3 separate regions of the Homo sapiens genome follow, and regions 1 and 3 are each reported to be linked to region 2. The links are microRNA targets in miRTarBase. Many come from high-throughput screens and were not tested one by one. Region 2 holds a microRNA gene; each other region holds the end of a gene's coding sequence.
What was found. Region 2 holds the annotated microRNA hsa-miR-6510-5p (CAGCAGGGGAGAGAGAGGAGUC, at 2,878-2,899, opposite strand). A microRNA usually pairs through its seed, bases 2 to 8, with sites in the 3' UTR of a target mRNA and lowers its output. Matches are read on the target gene's strand: a 7mer-m8 pairs with bases 2 to 8, a 7mer-A1 pairs with bases 2 to 7 and ends in A, and an 8mer does both.

Region 1: miRTarBase lists ZC3H10 as a target of hsa-miR-6510-5p. Seed matches in the 3' UTR shown: 7mer-A1 at 2,639-2,645, 7mer-A1 at 3,836-3,842 and 7mer-A1 at 4,331-4,337.
Region 3: the mRNA of BNC2 is a reported target of hsa-miR-6510-5p. The part of its 3' UTR that is shown has no 7-base or 8-base seed match.

The regions. Positions count from the first base shown.
Region 1 is chr12:56,120,611-56,127,941 of GRCh38, forward strand. ZC3H10 (zinc finger CCCH-type containing 10) reads left to right here. Exons shown (of 3, transcript NM_032786.3): 3 at 1-6,904. The coding sequence ends at 1,257. Among named protein-coding and RNA genes, the nearest start is that of ESYT1, 4.0 kb to the right of the region's middle. RefSeq lists enhancers at 545-1,542, 5,630-5,889, 7,329-7,331.
Region 2 is chr17:41,514,317-41,521,647 of GRCh38, forward strand. MIR6510 (microRNA 6510) reads right to left here and starts at 2,901; the gene lies at 2,848-2,901. KRT15 (keratin 15) reads right to left here and starts at 4,574. Exons shown (of 8, transcript NM_002275.4): 1 at 4,014-4,574; 2 at 2,767-2,849; 3 at 2,492-2,648; 4 at 1,788-1,949; 5 at 1,569-1,694; 6 at 1,156-1,376; 7 at 333-358. The coding sequence starts at 4,511. RefSeq lists enhancers at 2,325-3,209, 4,914-5,913, 7,027-7,331.
Region 3 is chr9:16,412,619-16,419,949 of GRCh38, reverse strand. It overlaps BNC2 (basonuclin zinc finger protein 2), which reads left to right. Exons shown (of 7, transcript NM_017637.6): 7 at 301-7,331. The coding sequence ends at 961. It overlaps LOC124902125 (a long non-coding RNA gene), which reads right to left. Exons shown (of 3, transcript XR_007061425.1): 3 at 4,574-4,661. Among named protein-coding and RNA genes, the nearest start is that of LINC03041, 140 kb to the right of the region's middle.

The DNA.
Region 1 (7,331 bases), not on the chromosome of region 2:
GGCCCTGGAGGTGGTGGCAGCGAGGAGGCCAGTGGGGCAGGGGTAGGCAGTGGCGGGGCCAGCTCAGATGCCATCTGTAGAGACTTCTTGAGGAATGTGTGCAAGCGAGGCAAGCGTTGCCGATATCGCCACCCAGACATGAGCGAGGTGTCCAACTTGGGGGTGAGCAAAAACGAGTTCATCTTCTGCCATGACTTCCAGAACAAGGAGTGTAGCCGCCCAAATTGCCGTTTCATCCATGGCTCCAAGGAGGATGAGGATGGCTATAAGAAGACAGGAGAGCTTCCCCCACGGCTGAGGCAGAAAGTAGCAGCTGGCCTTGGCCTTTCACCGGCTGACCTACCAAATGGCAAGGAGGAGGTCCCTATCTGCCGTGACTTTCTCAAGGGTGACTGTCAGAGAGGAGCCAAGTGCAAGTTCCGTCACCTGCAACGGGATTTTGAGTTTGATGCTCGGGGTGGAGGAGGCACTGGTGGGGGCTCAACAGGCTCAGTCCTCCCAGGACGACGTCATGATCTCTATGATATCTATGACCTTCCTGACAGGGGCTTTGAGGACCATGAGCCAGGCCCAAAACGCCGGCGAGGTGGATGCTGCCCCCCTGATGGCCCTCATTTTGAGTCATATGAATATAGTTTGGCTCCACCGCGAGGGGTGGAGTGCAGACTGCTAGAGGAGGAGAATGCCATGCTCAGGAAGCGGGTAGAGGAGTTAAAGAAGCAGGTCAGCAACCTGCTGGCCACCAATGAGGTACTACTGGAACAAAATGCTCAGTTCCGCAATCAGGCCAAGGTCATAACCCTGAGCTCCACTGCACCAGCGACTGAGCAGACTCTGGCCCCCACTGTGGGCACTGTTGCCACTTTTAACCATGGCATTGCCCAGACTCACACTACTCTCAGCAGCCAGGCTCTACAGCCTCGTCCAGTGTCCCAGCAAGAACTGGTGGCCCCTGCTGGAGCTCCAGCTGCTCCCCCAACTAATGCTGCACCTCCTGCTGCTCCACCACCCCCACCCCCACACTTGACCCCAGAGATCACGCCACTGTCAGCTGCCCTGGCTCAAACAATTGCCCAGGGAATGGCACCTCCACCTGTCTCCATGGCTCCTGTGGCTGTATCTGTGGCTCCTGTGGCCCCTGTGGCTGTATCGATGGCCCAACCCTTGGCAGGAATCACAATGAGCCACACCACCACTCCCATGGTGACTTACCCTATCGCTTCCCAGAGCATGCGCATCACGGCCATGCCACACTGATGGGGCTAATGGACACTCCCCTGGTATAGCCTCGCAGGGCTGGGGTCAGGGGGCCCTTGCCCACTCACCTAGCCTTCCCCATCCCTGTCTGAAGGGCTCCCTTGAGAACTAGGACAAGAGACTACAAGGAGTATGTCCTGAGGAGGGGTTGGGATGGTGTGTTTTCTCTCACCTCCCTTTTATGAGGGTCCTCTTGTCCATCTTCAAGCCTCACAGTGGGGGCTTGCAGAGGAGTGCAGACTGAAGCCAGCAGAGAGGAAGGACTGACTGAGGGGCTGTGTCCTCTTATGGGAATTTGGGAACATCCCTCGTCTTGTCCTCTCTTCTGCACAGCACAGGTTCCAGCACTGGTTTTAGAAGAAAAAAATACCCTGCCCAGAGGGAAAGCCAGGAAAGATTGGGAAGTGGGTGGTCAGGAGAGAAGGCCTGATAGGAGCCTTCAGACAATTTGGGTCCTAGTTGCTTGGGTTGGACAATACAGGAATTGCTTCTGGGCCCTGGGAAAGCTGGGACCATAGTGCTCCAGCCCAAAGACTAGGGGAGCATTCATTACCCTAGTTTGACCTGAAAATCCATAGGGCAGGGCCCACTACTTTCCAAAGAAATAAAAGAACAATTATTTTTAACAAATGGAGGCAGTGAAAACTTGCTTAGCTATTCTGTGTGGAAGATGGGAGCAGTAAATAGATCTCATGCCAAAATGGGATAAAGACCCCAGCCTCACATAGCTTTGGTAAGATGGATAGAAGCCAGTGAAGAAGGGTAGGGACCCAGAACAAGACCAAATGGGGCTTTGGGGAAGGCACTTTATGGGGTAAAAGCTTTGGAGCCACCCAGTCTAGTTTTAAAAATAGTCCCATCTGTTTCTGGTCTCTGTCTGTATGTGCTATTCCCAGGTTGCCTCAGTAACCAGGGCTCCTAGGGTCATTTAGCAGGGCAGGCAGTAAGGAGAGTGTATTTGCTGAAATGCGGATGGGATGTTACATAGTTGACAGATCCTTATTCAAACAGAGCAGGACAGGTGGAGTTGATGGCCATTGAGTTGATGGCAGTTGCCGCTCAGTTGATGGCAGTTAATGTCCCTCCTACCCCACCCCTTCAGTGGCCAGTTCCTGAAGCCTTCAAGGCTTGGGAGGTCTGGGAAAAGAGAGTCCTTCTAGGGACACAAGCCTCAGGGTCCATCCCTTTCCTCTGTCTCCACATAGGACCAGAAGTTTTAAATCTACTTAAGTCAGTAAGGCCAGGGGCCCCAATAGTCAAACCTCAGTTCCTCCTCAGCTCACGGCTGATGTAGGGAAAACAACTCAGGTGTCTAGTCTAATGGGACAGTAGATTTGGGGGTAGAGAGTGATCCTGGATTGTGTTCCCCCTCATCATGTCTCCTGCTACCTCTTGCTTTCTTGTCTGGTTGATCACTCAGGTCACATCTGGGATTGGAGATGGTGGGCTAGGTCAAGGCCAGTCATTAAAAAAAAAAGCCTAAAGACTAAAAGTGGGCTAACATTGTGGATTTTAGAAACAACACATTGATAAGCTTAATGTTTTTTGGGACACAATTTTTTTTTTTTTTTTTGAGATGGAGTCTTGCCCAGTCACCAGACCGGAGTGCAGTGGCGCAATCTCGGTTCACTGTAACCTGCGCCTCCTGGGTTCAAGCGATTCTCTTGCGTCAGCCTCCCGAGTAGCTGAGACTACAGGCGCCCGCCACCACGCCCGGCTAATTTTTTTATTTTTAGTAGAGACGGGGTTTCATCGTGTTGGCCAGAATGGTCTCTATCTCTCGTGATCCGCCCGCCTCAGCCTCCCAAAGTGCTGGGATTACAGGCATGAACCACCGTGCCCGGCAATTCTAGACTATTAAAAGAGATGGTTTAAGAGCATTTAGAGAAGAATGTAACCATAGATACCAACATGAATTCTCAGTCAAATCCTGACTGACTTTATTTCCTCCTTGCCAGGTTATCTCCAAAGAGGTAGATTTGGGAAATTTTAGACATTGTATGTCTTGTATGTATTTACTCCAGCTGAAGACCACCAAGAATACACCTGGTAATTGAGCAAGTTGGGTTTAATGCTCATTGCAGTGAGGGGGAGGGCTCACCATTGGGGATAACGTGGTGTGTCTCAGCATGAGGGTGTTAGGAACGACTTAGAGAACTTAGACTTTGGTTAAGTGATTTTGGGGAAGATTCAAGAAAGTGGGTGTTCTTTTGGATTGGGTGCTGTTAAGGGAATCCAGGATAATTGGGTAGCTTGTCTAGAAGAAGGGCAGACAAGTGAACCTAAGCACAGTCGATGATGAAGTCACTCACTAGCTGGGAAAGGGGATGTTTGCTGTTTTGTGGTTTGCACACTGACCTTGTTTTGTGCTTAAACAAAATTGTGTAGTGATTTTGTTTTTTGTCTCACTTCATCGCAGTCACTGAGTGACCTTGTCTGATGCTGGTGTTTTGTGAGATTGTTTGTGTCCAAGAGAACTCATTGGCTACCTGTGAGCACCAGGTCAGCCCTAACAGCTCTGAAGCCTGGCTGTGTCAGGCCAGTTCCCAGATTACAGGAGCTACTTTCCTCTCTCTCACCTGCTAAGTCATCACAGATAAGAGGAAAATTACGGGTCAGTTAATCGTAGCATTTTTTCCATGCAAATGGCTCTGGTTAAAAAATAATGAGAAAAAAATAGTAGCATTTGGTAGAATCAAACTGAACACTTGTACTTAGTGTTGGTTAGCGCATTTATGTTAGAGAAATCTCTGTTCTCTAGTGATAAGCCCAAGGGCTATGTTTTATTGTAAAAAGAAAAAACCCAACTCGGGTAAACATGTAAAAAACCCATTTATCAACAGTAACACAGGAAGAGCTAAATAATATTCAAAGTGTCTGTAACTTGAATTGACTAAAACACTGGAGCACTCTCACACTAAAAAATTGCTTAGATCTTGAACTAGTTTGAGGAACAATGTTAGAGATTTATATTAGCAATAATTCACATGAGAACAAACTGGGACTTCCAGTTGGCTGCAAAAAAATAGAATCTTAGCCCTCAAGATGTCCATTTATAAATATTTATTAAGAGCCTGCTATGTTCTAGGCATCTTTCTAGGAGCTCCATAAGGGTAGTAGAACCTTGGTAATAGATTACAAATACAGCAGTTCTATGTTCTGCCTAAGTGTAACCACTTAGTAGTGTGTTGTTCTAAATGTAATTTTTAAAGAGGGCCATTGACAAACCAGTGTGTTGCTAGAAAAAAAAGGCTGGCAAGAGAAAGCTTCAAATAGAAGTCTTCAAATATTTGAAGGGCTGCCCAGTGGAGGAAGATCCTGTTTGCTACACAGGAAGTAAAAAGGGATTTCTAGAATAATGGCTAACTTTTTTTTTTTTTTTTTTTTTGAGACGGAGTCTAGCTGTGTGGCCCAGGCTTCAGTGCAGTGGCACGATCTCTGCTCACTGCAAACTCTGCCTCCAGGGTTTACGCCATTCTGCTGCCTCAGCCTCCAGAGTAGCTGGGACTATAGGTGCCCAGCTAATTTTCTTTTTGTATTTTTAGTAGAGACGGGGTTTCACCGTGTTAGCCAGGACGGTCTCCATATCCTGACCTCGTGATCCGCCCACCTCGGCCTCCCAAAGTGCTGGGATTACAGGCGTTGAGCCACCGCACCCAGCCGGCTAGCATTTGTTGACTGCTTAATATAAGCCAAGGCTCTGTGCTAGGCACTTTACATGCAACATCTCATTGACACAATGGGTAATATTATTGTACCCATTTTACAGAGGAGAAAGCAGGCTTAAAAAGTAACCTGCCCAGGGTTCTGCAAGTAAGGAATGGGGCCAGGAATCTATTCAGGCAGTCTCACTCCAGACGACAAAAGAAAGTTCTAATGATATAGCCATCCAACAAAGCGATCACTACTTGGCAGTAATTTTTTTTTTTTTTTTTTGAGACGGAGTATCACTCTGTTGCCCAGGCTGGAGTGTAGTGGCGTGATCTCGGCCCACTGCAGCCTCCGCCTCTCGGGTTCAAGTGATTCTCCTGCCTCAGCCTCCCAAGTAGAGTAACTGGGATTACAGGTACATGCCACCATGCTCGGCTAATTTTTGTATTTTTAGTAGAGACGGGGTTTCGCCATGTTGGCCAGGCTGGTCTTGAACTCCTGACCTCAGGTGATCCAACTGCCTCGGCCTTCCAAAGTGCTGGGATTACAGGCATGAGCCACCGCGACTGGCTTGGCAGTAACTTTTGAGGAATAAAGAATACAGAAGGAGTTTCCTCAAATCTTGTTGCCCTTCCCATCTTTGTGAGCTGAGATCAGAGTACCGTATCTCACCCTCTGCCTCTTGGAGGTGATTATGGTTTACATATAAATGCAGATTGCAAGTCCAGGAAGTTTACTCTCTCTCCTCCTGTAGGCCTCATCCTGTAAGACACTTCCTCTAACAAATGGGCATCCCTTCCTGTTGTCCACTTACTGCTTATCACCACCAGGTGGCACCTGGGCAGCAGAATTGTCAGTGGGCGGGGACCCACCCTGTTTACTTGTGTTGGTAACTGCATTGCAGCTGCTGATCCTGTGGCTCCTGGGCCCCAGCTGGGACAAGAACTTCCTGAGGATGAAGTTTTATCCCCTATATAATTTCTGATGATCTGGATGAGGTGAGGAAGGGAGAAGTTTGGAAAAGAACCTCCATAGGTCACCCTCTCCATTCCCCCATTCTCAGGAACCTCCTTGCCTACTCCAGTGCTTGGCAAATTTCAGTTTATAGAGAGGTTTCTCTCTAAGGTTCATCCATGTTCCTTCTGTAGTTCTGCTTTATCAGTTGGTGAGCAGGTCACTCATAATTCCTCCAATTTCCTTGTTTCCCTTTTCTACCTGCTTACCTCTGGGAATATGGAGGATATAGGAGACAGAATATTGTTTCTTAAATAGTTCTGCAAACTGAATGAAGCAGTCAAGATACTGCTAGCCCTAGGGAAGTAGAGAAAAGGAAGTGAAAAAATTTAAGTGATAGAGGCTGAGCAGGGACAGGTTTTAAGCAGCTTTGGTAAACACAGGCTGATGAAATCTATGCCCTGCAGAACCAGATAAAATTTATCAGCTGCAGGCCTCATCCTGTAAGACACTTCCTCTAAGAAATGGCTAGTTTCTTCCCAGTGATCAACCCCAGTTCTTCTGCTGCATCTGACAGATTTACATAATATGCCCCATATATACTGCATTAAAAGGTAATCATCTTATGACCAACACTTCCCTCATCAACTTCCAATTAGTCTAGTTCCTAGATCCTAGGACAACACTCCACCTCTAACGCCAGTTAACTAGTAACAATAGTCATCGGTGTACCCTGCACTTTTTCCTTCCTAAACCTACACCGTACACTGTGGGACTGCACTAGTTCTGCACCTGACTGTATGGCAAACCTTCCTTCTAACTCAGGCAAATGTGAAAAGGAATTGTCTTTCCCTTACTCTTGATCCCTCATTTTAGTGTCCTAGAAGTTCTTCAGGGTCAGAAAATTATTGGAAAATGTAATAATTTGCGCTGCCTCCCTCCCTTTTGGAGCCAACTAGTCTTACATCCATCCTCTAAGATAGAGATGACTTACTAACTCTTGGAAATTTCCAAAAAGAAATAAAGCCTCACTTTCTATTCACTCTGCTTTTTTTCCCCCTTTCCCTGAAGGCTGGATTATCTCAACTCTGTAATTCTCTGACTCTCCAGTTTTCTCCAGGGTCAGTCGTTACACCACACAAAGAAGGTAGGGGATTAGGGACGGGATAGACGGGGTTAGTTTTCAAACACTTTCATTCCAAATACGATCGTATCCTTTCCTTTTGTAAGGGCAGGCAGGAAAAAGTTGAAGGATAAGGAATGTGCTTAGAGTATGAAAACTAGAGAAAGTCGGCAAAAGAACATATATATATATCCCAGACCAAATCCTGCCAAACCGAATGAGTAGAGGGAAATCCTGAAGCTCCACAACCCCTCAACTTCGCAACTTGGGCTTTCTCCAAAACCAAGAAATTGGCGGTGCAGCTCTGCATGACGTCATACCACAGGCACTCCAATCCCACGTGGGG
Region 2 (7,331 bases):
GGCAGGGAGCAACAATGTCAGGGTTTTTCAAGCTGCACATGAAGGGGGATGAATTGTGGGCATCTTAGCGGAAGTGTATGAAGATGGGGCCTGGGGGAGAGACATGCCCTGAATGAAGCCTACTCAACCTGGAAGTTTCTCAATAAATCACCAGCTGCAATCTCACCTGGGGCTGACAGAAGTTCCCACTGGGGAAGAGGCATCTAATGAATGGGAATGTTCCCACCTAATGGGATGTTTGGGCTCTTTCTCCTTCCTCCCTATTCCGAAGGGGGTGGTGGCTTCAACATCTCCCCTCCCCACCCCACACCAGAAGAGTAAAGCCTTCCTACCTTCCCTGATGGCAATGCCAGCCATCCTGAAAGAAAGAGGGAAGCTGATTTAAGCAAAGGGCACAAGCTCAAGTGTCCGTAAGGGAAGCTCATGTAGATAGCTATGCAGTGTTCTTCAGACCCTACACCACCACCACCCACACATCTGACTCCTCTAGGGGTGGGACATCCTGCTAGCCCATCCAGGCCTGCTATCCCCAAGTAGACAGATTTTGTTTTGTTTTGTTTTGTTTTTTGAGACGGAATCTCACTCTGTCGCCCAGGCTGGAGTGCAGTGGCACGATCTCAGCCCACTGAAACCTCCGCCTCCCGGGTTCAAGTGATTCTTGTGCCTCAGCCTCCCGAGTAGCTGGGATTACAGGCACCCGCCACCACGCCCAGCTAATTTTTGTATTTTTAGTAGAGACGGGGTTTCACCATATTGGCCATGCTGGTCTCGAACTCCTGACCTCAAGTGATCCACCCGCCTTGGACTCCCAAAGTGCTGGGATTACAGGCATGAGCCACTGAGCTGGTCAAGATTCTGAACTACAAGAATACCCATCTATCTCATGCAGAGAATGGAATGAGCACTAGATCTTAACTACCACTAGCCCAGCCTCTATCATTTACAGAAGAAACACGGATCCAGAGAGAGGAAGTGACCTGTCCCAGGTAACAGCCAAGGACCAGAGTGAGGAGTCCAGATCCTCCCTCCTTGCTCAGTTCTCTTTTCACAGTCCCTCAAGGCTGCTTAGGGACACCCTGCCATTCCCTTAGGATGACCCTGCACCCTAGCCACAAGCAGCCCTCATCACTCCTTCCCCTGTGCCCAGGCGCCTACTTGGCATCCTGGCCCTCGAGCAGGCTGCGGTAAGTAGCGATCTCCTGCTCCAGCCGTGTCTTTATGTCAAGCAGCATCTTGTACTCCTGGTTCTGAGCCTCCATCTCGCATCGGAGCTCACTCAGCTGGGCCTCCAGGCCACCAATGAGCCCCTGGATCTGCTGCAGCTGCGTGGCATAGCGGCACTCTGTCTCGGCCAGTGAGTTCTCCAGCCCAGCTTTCTGGGGGAGTGACAGATGCATAGACACATCAGGCTAGAAAGGAAGCCACTGAGGGCAAGCAGGGAGGGGGCACTGAATGGAGTTCAGGGAACCACCTCTTGAGGGGGCTTGAGAACTCCAAGGCTTAAATAGCCAGGAAGAGTGGGAGCTTCTACCACCCGAGAGGCTGGGATGGGGCGCGAGTGGCCGTACCATGCTGAGCTGGGACTGCAGCTCGATCTCCAGCTCCTGCATCGTGCGTCTCAGGTCTGTGATCTCCGTCTTGCTGGTCTGGATCATTTCTGTGTTGGAGGCCACCTCTTTGTTCAGCTCCTCAGTCTGTAGGTCATGCACAACAGAAGTGAGCCCCGGGGCCTCCTCGGAGACTCAGGGACCTGGGGCAGGAAGGGCAGGGCAGGATATAAGGCCCACCTTGCTGAAGAACCAGGCCTCGACATCCCGGCGGTTCTTCTCCGCCATGGCCTCGTACTGCTCCCTCATCTCTGCCAGCACACGGGTCAGGTCCACACCCGGTGCTGCGTCCATCTCCACATTGACCTGGCCGGCCAGCTGGCTGCTGAACTCCTTCATCTCCTGCAGGATGGGAGGGACCCACTTAGAGACGGAGAGCAGAAGAGAGACCTGAGAGTCTGGCGTCACACATGCCAATCCTGGCTCTGCCCGTAACACACCCCAACCGCTGTTCCCCATTGCACATGAAGAGGTTTGGTCACATGGACCCCTCAGCTCTAAGGAGTTCTCTGCTGCTCTAGGTCCTACCAAGGGAGGACCCCGAGACTGTAGGGCCCTGATGTGAGCTCACAAAGCCAATCAGGAAGTCAACCATTCATACGGGCCACCTGGGCTGGCTGTGGGCCTGGGCTACCAGACACTGCCCCTTCCTCTCCATGAGGACACCTGGTTTTGTGGGGTAGGTGTGTTTCTGAACCACTAAGCCCCAGGCCAACTATGAGGAAGTACCAACAGCCCCACTCTGCCTCCCACTGACTTAATCTCGTGAAAATCTGGGAGGGCTTCCTGGAGCCACTGTCTTTCCCTCTGGGCAATTTAAGTGAGTTTTGGGAAGAGGTTCCCCACCTCTCTCGGGTTCAGGGGTGATGGGGGCCAGCTCTCACCTCTTCGTGGTTCTTCTTCAGGTAGGCTAGCTCCTCATTCAGGCCCTCGATCTGCATCTCCAGGTCAGTCCTGGCCAGGGTCAGCTCATCCAGGACTCGGCGCAAGCCGTTGATGTCAGCCTCAACGCCCTGGCGCAGGGCCAGCTCATTCTCATACCTGAGGAGAGGGAGGCCAAAGAAGGAAGTGGGAGGGGTCTTGGCTGCCTGAGTCAGAGCCAGGAGAAGGCCAAGTAAAGTGGGCAATGCAGGAAGAGGAGAGAGACGGGGGAGCGCACTTGAGCCTGAAGTCGTCCGCAGCCAGCCTGGCATTGTCGATCTCCAGGATGACCCGGGAGTTGTCGATGGTGGTGGCCATGATCTGCAGGAGACAGAGTCGGTGTCTAGAGGACTCCTCTCTCTCCCCTGCTGCTCTCTGCTCTGCACCCAAGGCCAGCCCCTCATTGAAAATCACCCCTCACTGACAATCACCCCTCTGACACCACCAACAAAAATCTGTACGGCTTCTGGGGTGGGCAAAGTCCAGCCTCACTTTCAGTGTCCATTTCTTGTTTTGTCCCATCCAGCCTCCTTGAGACACCTGAGGAGCTGCCTTCCTTATCTCCAGGGCACGAAAGACCAAGGAGGCAGTATTGCCTGTGGGAATTGGTTGCCCAGGAGAGTGGGGCAGTGGGGTGCAGCCAGCTCTGACAATAGCTCTCTCAGAGACACTCCACCAGCCCCACTGTGGACAACTCATGGTCACTGCCTCCTGCACACCTTGGACACAGCCATGGATCTACAGAACATTCCAGCCAGTAGCAACCTGGAGGGCAGTTAAGAAGGCATTTTACGAATGAGGAACCCAGTCTTAGGGAGTAAAATGGTGAGTGAGTGGGTGGCAGAATGTGTAATGAGTTCCCAGGTCTCCTAAGACCCAACAGTACTTTTGGCACAAAAGACCTCTTTATAGGAAAAGACAAGAGGTTCTAGCATCTGGAACTCATGAGGCCACACTCCAATCCCATTCTTGCAAAAGAGGTAAAGGAATACTTTATGCAGAAGCCTGCAGGGTGCATGAGGTAGGGAGGGCGAGTTGCTCTTTTTTTTTAATTATTTTTATTTAATTAGATACAGGTTCCACTCTGTCACCTAGGCCGGAGTGCAGTGGCACAGTCATAGCTCACTGCAGCCTCTAAATCCTGGACACGAGCAATCCTATCACCTTGGCCCCCCAAAGCACTGGGATTACAGGTGTGAGCTACTGCCTCTGGCTCTTTATAATTGCCCCCACCTGTGCCCCTGTTGGTCCTAACCAGATTCCCAAGACCCCTCTCTCCCTCCCCCAGCACCACCAAGTTGAGAAGATGTGCACTGGCCTCTGCACCTGGACAGCAGGTGCATTCCAAATTTGCTGAGATTACATACCAGACAGTCATTGCCTGGGCAGGAAAGGATTTCCTTGAGTCAGCAGTAACACTGACATTAGAGCTGTGTACAGGGTACCAGCCACCTGCTCCCCTCTCTTTGACATCCGAGGACTCACCTTGTCCCGGAGCTCTTCAATGGTCTTGAAGTATTGGCTGTAGTCGCATTCTGGGCTGGTTGGGGTCTGCTTCTGGTACCAGTCATGGATCTTCACCTCCAGGTCAGCATTGGCCTCCTCCAGGGCACGTACCTTGTCCAGGTAGGAGGCCAGGCGGTCATTGAGGTTCTGCATGGTAATTTTCTCATTGCCAGAGAGGAGACCACCATCGCCACCACCAAAGCCACCACCAAAACCCCCACCAACGCCCCCTCCAAAGCCTCCACCGAAAACACTACCAGCCCCTCCACCAAAGCCACAGACCCTCATGCCACCCCCATATCCTCCTCCTGACCCTGAAGAGACAAACCTAGCAGAAGAAGCTGAGATACTTCGGCTTCCACCTCCCCCAGAGAGACTCCCCCCACCAAAGCCACCTCCCCCAGCCAGGAGGGAACCCCCTCGGGTTGAGCCACCCCCAAAGGTGGAGGAAGAAGTTTGCAGAAATGTGGTGGTCATGGCCAGGTAGCTGGAGCCCGTGAGTTCTCAGCAAACCCAAGAGATGCTGGCAGGAGGTACCAGGCCAGGCTGCACGCTGGGGCTCCTTATATACCCTTCAGAGGGTGTTGTGGGACCTCGTCTCCTCCCCTAAAGCAAAGCCAACTCCTTCTGCCTTCCTGACAAACACAGCTGCCTGCACACCTTGAGTGGGTCATGTGAAGTTTTTCTCTTCTATTTTTTTTTAATGCAACAAAAGAGATGATTCAGAATTAATAGTGTTTTTCCCCAGGGCACGGTTTTAACACTTGGATTACAGGTTCATCTCTCCATGCCAGAAGAGAGCAGCAGGGAGCGAACTCTCATCACAGCACAGCTACCAAGGCCTCTGCCTGTACTGAGAGCAGCTCAGGCCAACTGTGCCCTCAGCTGGACTTCACTTCCCCGAGCCCTGAGCCTCTCCCCAAGAGGACAGCTCCGTGTTCTTAGTTTGGGAGTCCACTGGCCGATCATTATGCTGTGTTATCCAACTCAAAACCCTGTGAGTGAGTGAGTGAGTGAATGAGTGAGTGAGTGAGTGAGTGAGAGACTGCAGGGCTCAGGGAGAGTGGAGGCCCTGGGGATGGGAATGCAGGGCCCCTGGGGGCAGGTGGAGGACAGGAGCCAGGGACCTTGAGTAGTGTTCCAGCTGAGGTGACCAGAGGAGCCAGCATCCATCCCCTTACCTGGTGCTGCAGATGGACTCCCCTCCTCCCACCTCTACTCCCCTCCTGCCATCCTCCAGCCTGTGTTCCTGGCACCCTCACAAAAGCCCAGCAGGCTTGGGACTGACAAGGGGATGACTGATGATCCCGACACCTGCCAACTGCACGGCGCTGAACCTTTGCTCGTTTCTGGGATGTGTTGGGGCAAACCTCCGCTGATAAGGCTGGGGCAAGTTCCAGGAAGCCCCTGCCTTCTCCAGGAGAGGCATGTCGCTGCTTAGCAGGGCCAGATTAGCCCCCATCTGTCCTGTCAAGTGCTGGCTGGGGACGGGCCGCTGCAGAAGGCTCTATGTGCCTGAATGCTGTGGAAGGGAAGAGAAGGGAGACTGGCAGGCAGGCTGGAAGACACCGGAGATCTTGAAGACCAAGGCATTGCTTCACACAGACGGGGAGTTGAACACTCAGGAGAGCCCTTTTCTCTGCCACCAGCTCAGGGACACCTTTCCAGGGACACCTGATACCTGTGGGCAGTGCCACTTGGAGGTGTGGCTCAGCCCTCTGGACCTGGCCCCAGGGCTTACAGAAACTCAGGAGGAGGATTCCTAGCCCAGGTTGCAGCATGGTGAAGTGGACAGGGCTCTGGAGTCCCTCAGGCCCGGGTTTGAATCCTGGCTTTATCAATTATCATGGTAAGACTGTGAGGCCTGGGTTCAAATCCTGACCCTACCAATTACCATGGTAAGACTGTGGACATTTACCTTTTTAAGTCTCTGTTTCCCTGTGGCAAGGGGCGCTCTCAACTCTCACTTCCAGGGAAGCCCTGTGGCCCAAGAGCCCCCATCCTGCCCCCTCCTGGATCCCCACCCAGGTGCCAGACATGCAGGGGCCAGGGTGCATGACCGGCACCTGCGCCTGAGTGCCCTCACCAGGAGGGGCTTTGTCGTTGGGCATCAGAACATGCCCTGTGAGCCTGAGCATGTTCTTAGGCTCAACGGCATCGACCTTCCATAGCCAGCTCCTATGGGGCAACGCAGGTTGTTCTTAGGTTCTTATTTTGCTATAATAGCATAATCCTTTACTTCTACCCTGCACTTTGTGATTTACAAAGCACTTTTGCATCCATCACCTCCTCTCATCCTCACAACAGAGGGTGACCCCCACCCAAGATTCAGAAAGAATGAAATTGAAACTTGGAGAGGTGAAGCAACTTGTGCCAGGTGGCACCACTGGTAAGGGGCAAAGCCAGGACTCAAACAGGTCCTCACACCCTCAACCAAACAGGGCACAGGGAAAGAGTCCTTCCTGCAGACCCCAAATTCCTGCATCTGAGCTGGGCTGGCAAGGGGAACTGCCAGCCAGCAAGGCTGGGGGTGGGTTCCTTCTCATCCATCTTCGCAGTGAGCCTGGCCTCCAATGCTGGGCACAGACAGTGTGGTATTGTCTCATGGGTGGGAGGGTATTGTCTTTTCCTCCGAAAGAAAAATAATCAAACTCAGATCATCCAGAGCTCATTAAAAGCCTCTGCAGACATTGTGGCCCCAGCAATTAACTCAAGAACAATTACTCGCCTTTCACCCCAGGGTGAGGAAGGGCTGGACCCCAGCCAGATCCCCTTCTGCACCTGACTCTCCTCCAGCAGCCCCTCGAGGTGGCTTTCTCTATACTCTCAGGCCCAGGCCAGGGGCGGCAGCTGCCCCCCTCACTGCCCCACGCACAAATCCCTGGTTTCAGTCCAAACCGCTACTGTGAGCTCCAGATCTGGGTGGGGCCCGGAGCCTCCTCATTAGCACCAGGTGGGATGGCCTTGCGAAGATAAAGCTCTGTCTGGCCCCAGCCCAGGCTGTAGCCCCGGGCCCTGCCCCAGGCAGCCTGCCCAGGATGCTGTGCCAGTTTCTGACCTTTGCCCACTGCAGCCAGATGGGGCCATCTGTGGAGCTGGCCTTTTCTCCTTAGAATGAGGCAGTGCAGCCCAGTGGAAAGAGACTCAGCCTCTCTGAGCCTGGTTCCTGATTTAAACTTAGGCCATTAACACAGACTCCCCTCAGGGCCATAGTGAGCATTTGAGGGCACAAGGAGAATGAAGTCTCCAACAACCTTAGAACCCTCCCACACCTCTCCTGTTCCCCAGGGAAATGCC
Region 3 (7,331 bases), not on the chromosome of region 2:
AACAGAGTAATCATTGAGAAAAAGGTGCACGGGTTTGCATTCATCCTACCATTGACAGAGTCAACTCTCTTATAAAAATAATGTTAATGGAAAGTTCCCCTGATTGCACCTCTCACCACCACCACTAACTCCCAGATCCTGAGGATATAGGGGAATGCTTGCTTTTATAATGGTGTAATTAGAAGTGAATGTGCTTATTTGATACCTAGTGAAAGCTGAATCAATTTTAAAATGCTTTCCTTTTTCTCACCTTTCCCCACCCCCCATCCACGTACCCCCCCTTCCCTCTTGTTTTCCTAGACACAGTGCCAACATAAACCTACATCGTAAACTGTTGACCAAAGAACTCGATGACATGGGCCTGGACTCGTCGCAGCCCTCCCTTAGCAAGGACCTCCGCGATGAATTTTTGGTGAAGATATATGGTGCCCAGCACCCCATGGGGCTCGATGTCAGGGAAGACGCCTCCTCTCCCGCAGGGACTGAAGACTCCCACCTGAACGGGTATGGGAGAGGCATGGCAGAGGACTACATGGTCCTTGACTTGAGCACCACCTCCAGCCTCCAGTCCAGCAGCAGTATCCATTCCTCCAGAGAATCCGACGCAGGCAGCGATGAGGGGATTCTTCTCGATGACATTGACGGGGCGAGTGACAGTGGGGAGTCGGCACACAAGGCCGAGGCCCCTGCCCTCCCTGGCAGCCTAGGGGCTGAAGTTTCAGGATCTCTTATGTTCAGCAGCTTGTCTGGGAGCAATGGTGGGATCATGTGCAACATTTGCCACAAAATGTACAGCAACAAGGGGACCCTGAGAGTGCACTACAAAACTGTGCATTTGAGAGAAATGCACAAGTGCAAAGTCCCAGGTTGCAATATGATGTTTTCCTCTGTACGAAGCCGAAATCGGCACAGTCAGAACCCTAATCTCCACAAAAACATTCCCTTCACTTCAGTAGATTAGTCTCAGAATGGACACTACAAATGCCAGCTCTCACCAGATGGCCTACGTGTTTGAACTGCCATAGTCAGTGTGCGCTTATGTACTTGGGGTGTGTGTGTGTGTGTGTGTGTGTGTGCATTTATGTATGCTCTGTGGCTACATATACACACACGTATTTCCTTGAGATAAACAAGATAAACACTAGGTGCTTTTGAATTTTTTTCACTTCCCTTTATAGTTTTGGGAAAGGAGTGGGATCTTTGATTTCAGGGTGAAAACAGAGTACCCCTTTAAACACACACACACACACATGCACATACACACACACACACACACACACACACAGTGTGCAACTAGCCCCAGTTTTGACAGAATAATTCTTGGTCTTCCCCAAAGAGACAATTTGTTGTACCCATGACTGTTGCCTGCAAAAATAAAAGGGAAAAAAAAGAAAAAAGAAACAAAAAGGAACTTCTTATAGTTGTCTTTTGTGAACTTTAAGGTTTTGAAAGAATCTTCAATTAAAGCATGGCAGATTCACCTGTAAATATTTAGCCTTGAGGGGCCATTGATGTAAAACAATTGTATTGATGGTTGTTTAACTTTTTTGTTTAATTTTTACAGTTACATCCAGCTGTTAGATATGCAGGAAAAGATAGTTTGCTGGCTAGCTCTATTCATTTATGTTAGCATTAATGCACATTTTTAAAAAAAGAAAAAAACATGGTCTTGTTTTTACTACCTGTTAGATATAGTGCTAAAGAGGTGCTGGCATGCTTTACAGCACAGATCTGATTTTTTAAAATGTCCTGTACTAGTACATAAATCCCGTCATGCACTTTTTTTCATACACTACAAGGGGATGTGTAATAACCATGCTTCTTTTTTATCCTTAAACTATTGCCATACTTCAGTAAGTGTCTTTTTTAAAAAAAATTCACTTGTATAAAAATGGTCTGGTCAGTATAGGGCACAAATGCCAAACAAAGTATTAGTGTTAACACAAAACTGCCAACTTTGCACAAGTTTCCAGAAAAGAAAATACAATTAGTCACTCAACATAACCACAGGCCAATTTGTTGGCCACCAGAAAACCGCTTTTTAAAAAAACACTTGGTGATTCTTTCAAGTGCCGAATGTTATTAGAATCAACATTGCATCCTTCTTGCTTATACGTTAAGTTACATAAAAGGAAAACAAAATTATGTGGTGTGAAACAGCCAAGGCATTTATTCTTCAGAGGCAGGATAATATTTCAGGATACAAAAGCCCAAATTACCCGCTACGGAACAAAGATGAATACAGTAAAAGAGTCGAACACTCATTTCCAAGGCCCTAACCCTTATCCTTTAAAAAGAAATCCTCTGAACTGGGTCGGTCTGTTGTATGGCTGTCTAATTTGTTGCAAATTCTGCAGTCGTACTATAATTCAGGCCTGTTTGGTAGACAAAATCAAAAGGCATTTAACAGCAGCAGTACTTGGAAGCTTTGAAAACATGTGCTAAACTTGAATGGAGCAACACTCCTTTCTGAAAAGCCAGAAGAAGGGGGTTTTAAAGCAGGATCTCTCAATGTTCAGTGTTTTGTGTTTCCCCACACGATTTGTCAGAGAGAAATGAAAGCAAGCCTGAAACCAAGCAATTGAGAGTGAGAAAGAGGAGAGAGACTATTCTCCAAACCTTTTTTGTTTTGTTTTGTTTCCGATGTTTACACATGTTGCCTGAGCTGGTTAACCACATCGGCAGCCTCAGCTACCACAACATACTGACTAAATGATGATATTTACTCAAGTTCAGTCTGCAGCCAAAACCATTAGGGTGTGCATTGCAGACTGTTTTGTTGTCTTTTTTTTTTCTTTTTTCCTTTTTTTTTAAGTGGAGGGGAAAAGAAGAGATAAACAAGGAATATTTTGTCAAACAGTACACAATAATTTAAAGAGAATGTATTTCTTTTTTGCATTTAATGGCCTCAGACATTTCTTTCATCAGTCTAAAAGTTAGAAATATCCCTTTATTTTAACTTTTATGTCGTTTCCATTTTTCATGTTTTTGTAATTATTTTTTCTATGTTCACATCAGCATTCACTTCCGTTAAATTTGCCAAAGGAAACTGTTAATATGTTTCTGTTGTTATTATTCCTGTAGGATTTATTGTACCTCACAGTATTTATTGTTTCCCAAAATAAGCATCATTAGTTGGGGATTCAGTATTTTTGTTGTGAAAATTTCAGAAACAATAGATTCTTAAAGATAAGCTAGCTATGTCTAGGAGCTTTATCTTTTCACCTCCTTCAGAGGATGCTATGGGGTCCATTTTAATTCTTCATTTGTTCTACGGGGAGGAAAGACCAAAAGTATTTGCAGTACAAAAGAAACTATATCAAACACTATGTTAAATGACAAGTGTTTATGGTAAAAAGCTGAGGAATTAGTAATAATCGTTTTTGTTTTCTTGTACTTTGAATTCCCCAAAGTCTTAATTGCTTTATTTTGGTGTTGTGTTAAATTGAACAGACAGATGTTTTCCTTTGTTTTATACCATATAAGACTCTGTACAGTATGTTTGTGAAAGATTGAACTAGAATAATGAAAGTTTGTTTGCAAACATTTTGGTCCTCTCAGCGTTCTCTGTGTTGTGCTGTTGCCCCATTACCAAATGGTTAGATTCAAAAAGGGTGGGAAAAGATTTTTAATATCCCAACAAAACATTATAGAAACTCTGGCTTTTGCAGTGTGCATAGACTACATGTAGTTTTATGAAAATAAATACACATTTTTATTTCAGCAACTTTGAAAAGTTACACTCAGTTGAGTTACTAGAACTCATCTTGTACAACAGCAATGTTTAGTCTGTTTAATTTAATGTCAAATAAAAGGTCAGATAGCCCTCGTGAGTGAATTACATAGCTGTCGGCAGTCACATCAGCAAATGCACCAGGCTTAGAACAAATGTTTGTTACTTGCTGCAAACCAAGCTAATGTGTATAGCCAGTTAGAAAAAGTCCAGAAGTAATGAGATTCTAGAAGTAGAGTTTCCCTTGCTTGGAAACATGAATGTGTTCACCTGTGTTTTGTCAGAGAAGTGGCAATAAGTCCTGGACAGCTGACACTTTTTAAGTATCTCCCCTATTTGCTACTACTTTTGTGCCTCAAGTGCCCAGTCGTTACGGTGGCCTTCTAAATGAGTAAATAACATTTTCCAATATAAAGCCTATTTGCTTAAAAGGGACAGGGGAGTGGATGGATGTAGTACATGCAATGGAAAATCATAAAATGTACAATTCTTCTGTTTCCAAAGTATTGCTCGTTCTTGAGTGTGTGCCTGAGTGTCTTGTTTTGACTTAACTAGAATTCTAGTTAAGATGGTGATCCCATGGCTTATTTGCAAACAGGAAGGATAAAGAGATCAGCGTTTTAGTCATGGAGCTCATCTTTGCCCATTCCTACTCATTTGCTTTTTCATAGGAGTTTTTTGTTGTTAAACAGTTTCTCTCAAGCCACATGCATTCTATGCTGGCTGAAAATTAATAGTGATGTAGATGTTCATCCGACAAGCTTTTCCCCATGTGATTGGTTTTAGCCAGAGTTTATCACAGGTACAAAATTAGGCGGTATGACTGTGCATGTTCTCTAGCTGATGTTGAAACTTGTACTGTCTTGATCATTTAAAACTATGTTTTTGTAAATATCAGGTTTAGTCCGCTTTCGGGAATATCTGCATGCTATGGAAAGAGAGAAAAAAAGGATAGATAATGAGGAATTTGGTTTAAAAGTGTGATAAAAATCCTTGGCATTCTTTGTTCTGATATTAATTGTATTTAAATAAGTCAACCCAATGTAACTCATTCCAGATCTTAGTCCAGCTGCCCTGTTCAGCCTGATGCCTTTTAAAGGTTTAAAGGTGTTAATGTTTTCCTTTTCAACATGGCAAACATTTTTTAAAACCTTTTTGGCACAATGGTGCCACTGTCCTCATAGTGTTATTTCTTTGGTCATGAATTTTCAGGCCCTTCCAGTAAGAGGAGAAAGGCACTTAACTGGTTAACAGCCCCATTATTATACATTGCTCTAAGGAAAAAAAAAAAAAAAAAACTTTGAATATATCAAGAATGGGCTATTCCAGAGGCTTCTCCTCAGGAGAAACTATGCACTAGGTTCCCACCAAATACAATGTGACCTTTTTTTCCCCTTTCTCTGTACACACCCCAGATATGTGCCAAGCAAATGAGAATGAGGGCCGTTGACAATTAAAGCATAAAGAAGCTAGTCACCAGATTGAGATGGACATGCTGCTAACTGCTGACAGCTTGACCTGAGCAGTCCTAACTTGTATCTGGTCTGTTAGCATTGGGTTAGATTGACTAACAGAGTAAATAAAATTCACCTGTCATAAGACACGCTACATCTGCTATCATCAAGAAACAAATCATCCAGAAGAAACTTTTTTTCATCCTGTGGTCACACCCTTTTCTTAAGAGCTTCTTTTTTAAAATTATGACAAACGAATTTCATTCTTTAAAATCACTTATCTTCTCCCAAACTTGAAGTATTTAAATTAGGTGGTTTTGCTTTTCCCTCTCATTGTTTATTTTTTGGGGATGGATCTAAATGAGTAAGATGAGCAATAAAAGATACCAGAAAGACTGGAGGGATCACAGTGTTTTCATCAGAACTAAGTAGAGGGTCGGTTCCTGCCCTGGTTTTGGGGTAGCTAGAAAAGGAAATCATGAATGCACTGGAAATGTTGGCTCGAGAGAAAAGACTGGCATAGCTCTGCCTCGCAGTGGGTGAGAGCGTATTGATCGTAGGGACCTGCAGAGTTCCTATGACCAGGTGAGTCGGCTCTGAGGAAGGGGTTAGGAAAGCAAGTACAGCTGCATGAAATAGCTGAAGTTCCTTTGGGGTCAGGAAGAGCCGACAATTGTGGGGTTTTGGTTGCTTTTGCTTTGTTTTTGAGTGGGAAGTGTTGCTGGAATCCCCTGAGAACCGAAAGATGCCAGGGGTCAGCAAGGCTATAGAAAAGGCCAGTGGTAACACCTCGTTTTCATCCTAACAGAGGAGTAGGTGCGAATGGCACCAGCATGGATCGTTCCTTTCTTGATCATTACTCATGCTTGCCACTGTAGCAACACAACAAAGCCATGATTGTAATTAATACTAGGCTAAAGACCTTGATCAAAATGGGAGCTCATTTACTGTTCTATGAGGTATGTAAGTAACTTCTCTTCACATTTTCCCTCAGAGATAAACCACACGTGGTAGTCTTGTTTGCGTTAGTACTAAGGTCATGTTTGATCTGTCCCAGACGAGTCGCATATTTCCTGTAGCTGGAGTGTTGCTCACCATAAATGGTCATTTTCAAAAAGTATTGTGTAATTCCAGCTGTACAACTGACCAGTGAGTTATCTGTCATCACTGTTGCCCACATACCCGTCCTTCCTTGTGTAGTTTCATCATCCTCATCCTTCCCACATCTTGCGCAAAATGATTTTCTGTGCTCATTCGGCAATAACTATGTTATTCGGCATACTGTCTTTTTGGCATTTGTTGAAAAATCCAAATGCTTTTAATCCAAAAGATTAATCCAAATCTTTTTTAATCCAAATGATTTTAATCCAAATCCAAATAACAGGAGGTTAAAAAAAAAAAAAAAACTAAGCATTTTTACATGTACACTGAATTGGATCAGCATTATTGTTCATTATAATGCTATATATATTTTTGGAGCAACATACTATAGTTGTCATAAAACTATCTTTATTCTTCTCCTCTAAAGTGCTGTTGTAAATTCATTTGACCTTTACTGCAGGAAAAAAAAAAATCTTTTTTATATAGGATATGAAGACCAAGGCTCAGTCTGTAACAAATAGTGGACCATTACAAAAGAGGAAAGAAAAAAGCCAGGGCTGAGCAGCAAGAAGCTTCAGTTCAATTTCACCTCGTATCTTTCTAATAACATACTTGTCACTTTATTACCTTCCAGTAATGTGAACGCTGCTGACAAGACTGTCACACTAACAGCAGACAACACCCTCTCTGCTTCAGCCCAGCTCTCCTGGCTACTTATTGCCCTGGCCCTGAAGGGACACAAACTAATAGTGTGCTTTCCAGTTCAGCACTTGGCCATCAAATATAAAAGGATGCGTAATTGCCTGTTTATCCCCTTGTGAAGGAGAAATTGACTACAAGGGCTAGGCTTTCCCATCGAGTTCCCTGATGTACACACACATCCACAATCAGTCAGTCTCTCTCTCTCTCTCTCTCTCTCTCTCTCTCTCTCTCTCTCTCTCCCCTCTCTCTCTCCTTCCCTCTTATTCTCCCCTCCTAACATACAAGCACATACACACACCTACTGTATCTGTGGGAAGCCCAAGGCTGCCTCTCGATGCCCT